Regions from separate parts of the Homo sapiens genome. Here region 1 is reported to be linked to region 2. The links are microRNA targets in miRTarBase. Many come from high-throughput screens and were not tested one by one. Region 2 holds a microRNA gene; the other region holds the end of a gene's coding sequence.
What was found. The annotated mature microRNA hsa-miR-7-2-3p reads CAACAAAUCCCAGUCUACCUAA and lies in region 2 at 2,345-2,366, shown strand. An mRNA with a match to its seed (bases 2 to 7 or 8) in the 3' UTR can be bound and repressed. Matches are read on the target gene's strand: a 7mer-m8 pairs with bases 2 to 8, a 7mer-A1 pairs with bases 2 to 7 and ends in A, and an 8mer does both.

Region 1: the mRNA of C4orf46 is a reported target of hsa-miR-7-2-3p. Seed matches in the 3' UTR shown: 7mer-m8 at 2,156-2,162, 7mer-m8 at 1,065-1,071, 7mer-A1 at 880-886 and 7mer-m8 at 142-148.

What each region holds. Positions count from the first base shown.
Region 1 is chr4:158,667,133-158,670,132 of GRCh38, forward strand. It overlaps C4orf46 (chromosome 4 open reading frame 46), which reads right to left. Exons shown (of 2, transcript NM_001008393.4): 2 at 1-2,636. The coding sequence ends at 2,481. Among named protein-coding and RNA genes, the nearest start is that of C4orf46, 3.3 kb to the right of the region's middle.
Region 2 is chr15:88,609,552-88,613,080 of GRCh38, forward strand. MIR7-2 (microRNA 7-2) reads left to right here and starts at 2,274; the gene lies at 2,274-2,383. MIR3529 (microRNA 3529) reads right to left here and starts at 2,373; the gene lies at 2,296-2,373. It also overlaps a transcript of AEN not described here. RefSeq lists an enhancer at 3,483-3,529.

The sequences.
Region 1 (3,000 bases), not on the chromosome of region 2:
AAAGAACAGAAAGGTCAGAATCTGGCCCTTACATAGTAACTGCATGACAGATGTTGCACTTGAAAAATTGATACTTGGAGGAACAGCTATAAATATGTAAAAATAATTAAAACAAGATTCCAAAATCATGCCATAAAAGAAAACAAATTTCAGTTGGACTAAACATCTAAATGTTAAAAACAAAAATTTTGTAACTTTTGGAAGGCTGAATAGGACTATTTTTATGACATTTCCTATACAAAAACCAGAAAAAGCAAATCATTATGAAAGATTGGTAAAATTACGTTTTTAAAAATTCAAGATTTCATAACCAAAATATGAAGACAAACCAGACTAAAAAAGATAATTGGAACATACATAACAGATCATTAGTATTCAAAATATGTAATATCTAAAAACTGACAAGTAAAAAAAACAACATAGAAAAATGAGCAAAAATGCCTGTAATCCCAGTGCTTTATAGGAGGAGGCGAGATGGGAGGATTGTTTGAGTCCAAGTTTAAGGTTACAGTGAGCTATGATCCTGCCACCACACTCCAGCCTGAGCAATAGAGTGAGATCTTGTCTCTTAAAAAAAAAAAAAAGAGTAAAAGATATGGCCTCAGAAATCACACACTGCATTTGCTCAATATCCTGGTAGTTACAAAAGTCAGCACTGTAAAATGCAGGAGAAGGCTATACTGGGGCATGAACACCAGGAGGCCAGGGATCACTGGGGCCATCTGGAAGCTGGCTACCACATATATAAAACAATATTTTGTAGCGCTTTTAAAAAATATATTTGTATTAAAAATATAAAAACACATGCTATATTATGCCCCCTCTAGTGGTTACCTCTGGGGACTCTGGGGAGGGAGGAACGGGACAGGATCAAACAGGTAACAAAGCAAACTTCAAATGTATCTAACATTTGCAATTACATGCATATGTGTGTCTGAAGAAAATATAGCCAAATGCTAACATTTATTACATCTGCATGGTAGAAATACACGGATTTTCTTGAAATCATTTACCTTTCCTATATCTTTGAAATATGTCAATAAAGTTTTAAGGTAATGAATCCAAACAAATGGAAATAAAATGTGCTTTTAATAATAATTTATTTTTACACATTTTAAAAATTGCAATTTTCAGGAGATGTAAGAAGAATATTTTTCTAATACTGAAATAAGCATATCTTTGGTATAGAAATCACACCCTATGTGTTTATCTTTAACTAAAAAAACTAATCAAGAACTATGACCTAATATGTTAAACAAAACTATTCTTTGCCCATCCATCTGTCCCCTCTCATAGCCCCATTGTGGGGCATTAGAATATAGTTCTGTACCTATCTCCATATCTACAAAGAATTAAGATGTTGTATCAAAAATGTCCAGAAGTTATATATGGTAGAGAATTAGTTGGCTTAATCGTTGACACACAACACAAAACACCAAAAGCAACATAAGATACAGGATGCAAAATAGAACACTGTCACTAAGATCAAATAATACAAAAAAAATCACATCATTTAAATTTGATGCATTGCAAACAAAGTAACTTCTTTAGAATTATTATGTACACAACTTGCAAAGCTCAAAAAGTAATAGCACAGAGCCATAAATCTGATAAGGCACTTTAAAGATAGCAATCAAACATATACAAATATCAAATACAAACACTGTTAAACTGCAAAAGCAGTAACCACAGAAATAAATAGGGAAAAAATATGCATTCTTTCTAAACAGTCTTTCCCTTTCTGAAGTAAAGTCTTTAAAAAAAAAATCAAACAAGTACAAAAAATATTTATCATATATTTTTAAAACCTATCATCAAAGTCCAAATCTCTGTAAAAAAAGAATGTTTTTCTTCAAGTCAAAAAAGTTCAGATTCATACATTTCCTAGAGAAACAATGACAGTCTTCATGCTAAATATAGGAAGAAAAAAAGCTTTCAATTATGTTTGTTAACTCTTTTATTCAACAAACATTTAGTGAATGTTGTGTGACCCTGTTTTAGGTGCTGGGGATATAGAATAAAGACACAATCATTAGCTGTAGACAACTTAGCCTAACGGAGCTGGATCCACCACTGGCAACCTTAAAGTTACCTCCCTTGGTCCTTAAGATGAAACGCAACTTCAAAGTCTGCCATGCTTAGCATCTTGTTGCAAAACAAATAATGGTCTACCTAGTTTGCTACTGGTAGCACTGTGGCTCTATTAATATTAACCGTCTATTGATGAAGTTAACTTTCATAAAGGATTCTATGAAAGTTCAGAGGCATAAAGTATTTAAGGACAAACAAGTACTGGTCCGCAACAAAAATAGCATCGGTATTCTGCTTTCACAAAAACCAAGAAAACCAAGAAAAATTTCATTCTGAGTATATACAGAACTGCTGGACAGAGGTCATCCTATATGTGTGGTACATGTACAAAATATGACATAAGAAGTATGAATTATTGCAGTCATTATTAAACAACGAAGTATGCCAAATCAGTCATCAGGTTTCAAAGAATCATAGCCTTCTTTCAAGAGGTCCCGCCACGTTTTAAGGAAACGTGCATTTTCTGTACATTTGAAGGCAAGTTCTTCCACTTGAGCTGATACTGCAGATGTGGCTTCAAGAAGTTTGGTTAATGAAAAGGCTGCCTAAAAAAAAAAAGTCAAACATAATTTTATTTTTAAAATTCTCATCTCATTTTATAAGCAGGCTGAAAATAGCTTAAGGCTTTGAATCCAATGCCCATGTTATTTTCTTTCAAAGTAATCAGTTTTCAAACTACAGCACTGGCTCTTTCACGGAACCTAAGAAATTCTTTAATATTGAGTAGACTTTGAAGAAACAGGTCTGCTAGAAAAATATCCATTATGTCTGAGATATGACAAATCAGTATAGTTGTTTTCTTTTTTTTTTTTTTTTTTTGAGACGGAGTTTCGCTCGTTTCCCAGGCTGGAGTGCAATGGCGCGATCTTGGTTCACTGCAACCTCCGCCTCCCGGGTTCAAGTGATTCT
Region 2 (3,529 bases):
TGGAGGAAACCATGGAAACAAGCGTTGCTAAGGGAACAGCTCTAAATTCAGAGGAAAGAAATTAGAAGTGGGGAGTGGAAGTTGGTGGGCTCAAGGGCAGGTCATTTTTTCAAAATATATTTCTTTGAGACTACAGCAGCCTCTTTTATTGCTTGCATCTTCTCCCAATTCAGATAGAGCCCAGAATTAAAGAATTTTGAAAACTAGGGCCACAATCAGTTCAAATTCATCTTCATTGGATCTGTAAGGAAAAAGCCAATGAAAATGGATTTACCCTGTTCACACCTCACAATCCTACTCTGTCTCTGAACTCTGCTTCTTTGCCAACCAGTTTCATTTATCACGGGCCAGGCTGTGCGCGAGGCACTTGGAAGAATAATGAGTGAGAGTCCCTGCTCTCATAGTGAGCTTCTAGCAGGGCAGTGGTTTGGGTGGTGGCTTTAGGGCCAGGGTTGCTCATGTAAGCTAGATCAGTCAGTCCTGCAAGCTGACATCCAGAGAGATGCTGTGGTTCTCTCCAAACTCTCTTTGTGGTGCATTTTAGCTTGTCTATTACTTCTCAAAGTTTATTTGCCAGGTCCCTAAGAAAGGCCTGTTTTTCCTAGAAATACCTAGGGTGCTAAGCTCTCCTATTAACCAAGGGGTTACCTTAGTTAGCATTGTTCTCTAATGGTACCCTCAGGTCCTTGTCTCTAAAACAATTCAAGGTTGAAGGACTAACCCTCCTCTCAACAGTGGCAAAGAGGCACGGGGCTATTTTTTTTTTTTTTTTGTAAAAGAAATTAAAGACCACACATCCATCTCTGTTTCTTGATAGATTAAAGGATGGGGAAAGGAGGTCTCAGTTTTCTACAGCTGGGAATTTCAGAGCCAGCACCTCACTGCGGGGTAGACTGAAGAGGGTCATAAAGAGCCTCTGGGGGAGGAACACCTCTCCCTTACATCTTCCACAAAAGAACTTCTTGGTTTTTCTCAGACCCATGGCAGAGATGTGCCCTGTCTCAGGCTGACAGCTGGAAGGGGCTGGGACTCAGAGCTAGGTATTGCCAGTCTTCTCCATGACTCCCCCCACTCCTCCTGCTCCTGAGCGTCTCCATCACCAGGCAAGCCCCCACCCCCATTCTGGATAGAGAGAATAAACCCAAGGATGGAAGGGTGGGCTAAAGAGGAAGTGCTCACAATTAAAAAGAGAAAGAATTAAAAGCAGCACCAATAGGGAAGGGTAATTATCCTTCAGTTGCTGCAGAAATACAATTAGGGCCATGCTCTCTGAGCCGCCAGGATATTGTGGCTTTTGCTAATTAAGGAGCGGATGTGTCCTGCCAGCGCAATTAGAGGCTGGCCCAGGCAGCAGGGGCTTTGCCTCTCCTCCACCAGTGCCACACTGCAAGGGAAATTAACCAGGGAGCCCAGCGCTGTGCCTGCAGGGAGGGGATGACTGGGCCAGGATTCCACCAGCCTCCTGTCCACAACCATTTCCCCTTTTCCTCTTCCTGCTCTGCTTACCCCAGCACCACCACTCTGACTTCATTCTGAAGCTTCCAGGGCTCAGTAACCACAGGAAGAATTTTCACCATGGGCCATGCCCATAGGCTTCCAGAAGGGGGAGGCACCAGTAGAGAGGGGTCACCATTTCCAAGCTCTAGTTTCTCTTCTGCATGGTGGTTCAATGCTTTATGATTAGTAAAGGAAAGAGAGAAATGAGCCACTTGCCTGCTTCTCTTTAAAAATAATTCCCCTGTTTGTAAAGGAAATATGCTCAAATTGGGTGCAGTGGCTCACGTCTATAATCCCAGCACTTTGAGAGGCTGAGGCAGGAGGATCACTTGAGCCCAGGAGTTCAAGACCAGCCTGGGCAATATACTGAGACCTTGTCTTTACTAAAAAAAAAAAAAAAAAAAAAAAAATTAGCTGTAGTCTCAGCTACTAGGGAGGCTGAGGTGGAAGAATCACTTGAACACTCGAGTCTGGAAGGTTGAAGCTGGAGTGAGCTGTGATTGCACCACTGCACTACAGCCTGGGTGACAGAGCAAGACCCTGTCTCACCAAAACAAAACAAAACAACTGTGTCCATTATAGAAAGTAGAACACTCCAGAAAAAAGGGAAAAGTAAGAAAAAATAATTTCTCCAGGGAATTCTGAGGTGAGGAGAGGTGTTCAAAGATGAACTTAGTAATAGGAGCGGAGACAACGCCTCGCCTGAAGGAGCATCCAGACCGCTGACCTGGTGGCGAGGGGAGGGGGGTGGTCCTCGAACGCCTTGCAGAACTGGCCTGGATACAGAGTGGACCGGCTGGCCCCATCTGGAAGACTAGTGATTTTGTTGTTGTCTTACTGCGCTCAACAACAAATCCCAGTCTACCTAATGGTGCCAGCCATCGCAGCGGGGTGCAGGAAATGGGGGCAGCCCCCCTTTTTGGCTATCCTTCCACGTGTTCTTTTTTGTATCTTTTGTGTTTCCTAGAAAACATCTCAGGTCACCACCCTAAACACCCATCGGCAGACTCTTCCAGAAACATGGACAAACTATGGTGTGAGCAGGGAAGTGGGGCAGGGTCTCTGTTTTCAGGGAGCAGTGGACTGCTTCCATACCACTACCTGAAGGGCAGGGGGAGAAAAACCCTCCTTAATTACTAATTCCCCCAACAATCACTTTGGGGCACCTATAATGGAGGCACCTTGTGACTCCACATCCTGGGGCTCAGGGCCTCATTGTCTGTGGCCCGACAGCCACAGTGTATGCGGGCACCGAGAGGTATGCACTGGAGACCGAGGTTCCCGGATGTTCAGTGTACCTGGCAGCAGGGGGGACACACCTGACCTCGGAGCTTGTCTGGTGCCTGCTCCACAGCTGAGGGAGTGGACTTGTGTGTATGGAATTTCTTGGTCCCAGTACCTGCCTCTGTGCTGCTACATCCAGAGGTGTGGCCAAGGGAAAAAAGCCCAGTGCTTGGGGACCATCCCCCACTGTGGCAGGAATACAATTAGAATTAGTGATCAGAAAAAGCATTTCCCAGCCTTTTATTTATTTATTTATTTATTTATTTATTTATTTATTTATTTATTTTTGAGACAGAGTCTCACTCTGTCCCAGGCTGGAGTGCAGTGGTACAGTCCTGACTCACTGCAACCTCCACCTCCTGGGTTCAAGTGATTCTTGTGCCTCAGCCTCCCGACTAGCTGGGATTACAGGTGAATGCCACCAACTCAGCTAATTTTTTGTATTTTTGGTAGAGAGAGGGGTTTGCTATGTTGGTCAGGCTGGTCTCGAACTCGTGACGTCAGGGGATCTGCCCACCTCGGTCTCCCAAAGTGCTGGGAGTATAGGCATCAGCCACCTTGCCTGGCCTCCCAGCCTTTCTGCCTGGGATCCCTCTGCCTGGGGGGTACCTTGCCCTAAGGTGAGCACCAAGTTACAGTGATGACACTTTCAGTGGAGATTAATTTTCAAGCAACAAATCCAAATGCCCTCCCTATTCCTAAGTATATTCCCACCCTCCTCCATCCATACAGCAGAGGAGACTAAAGC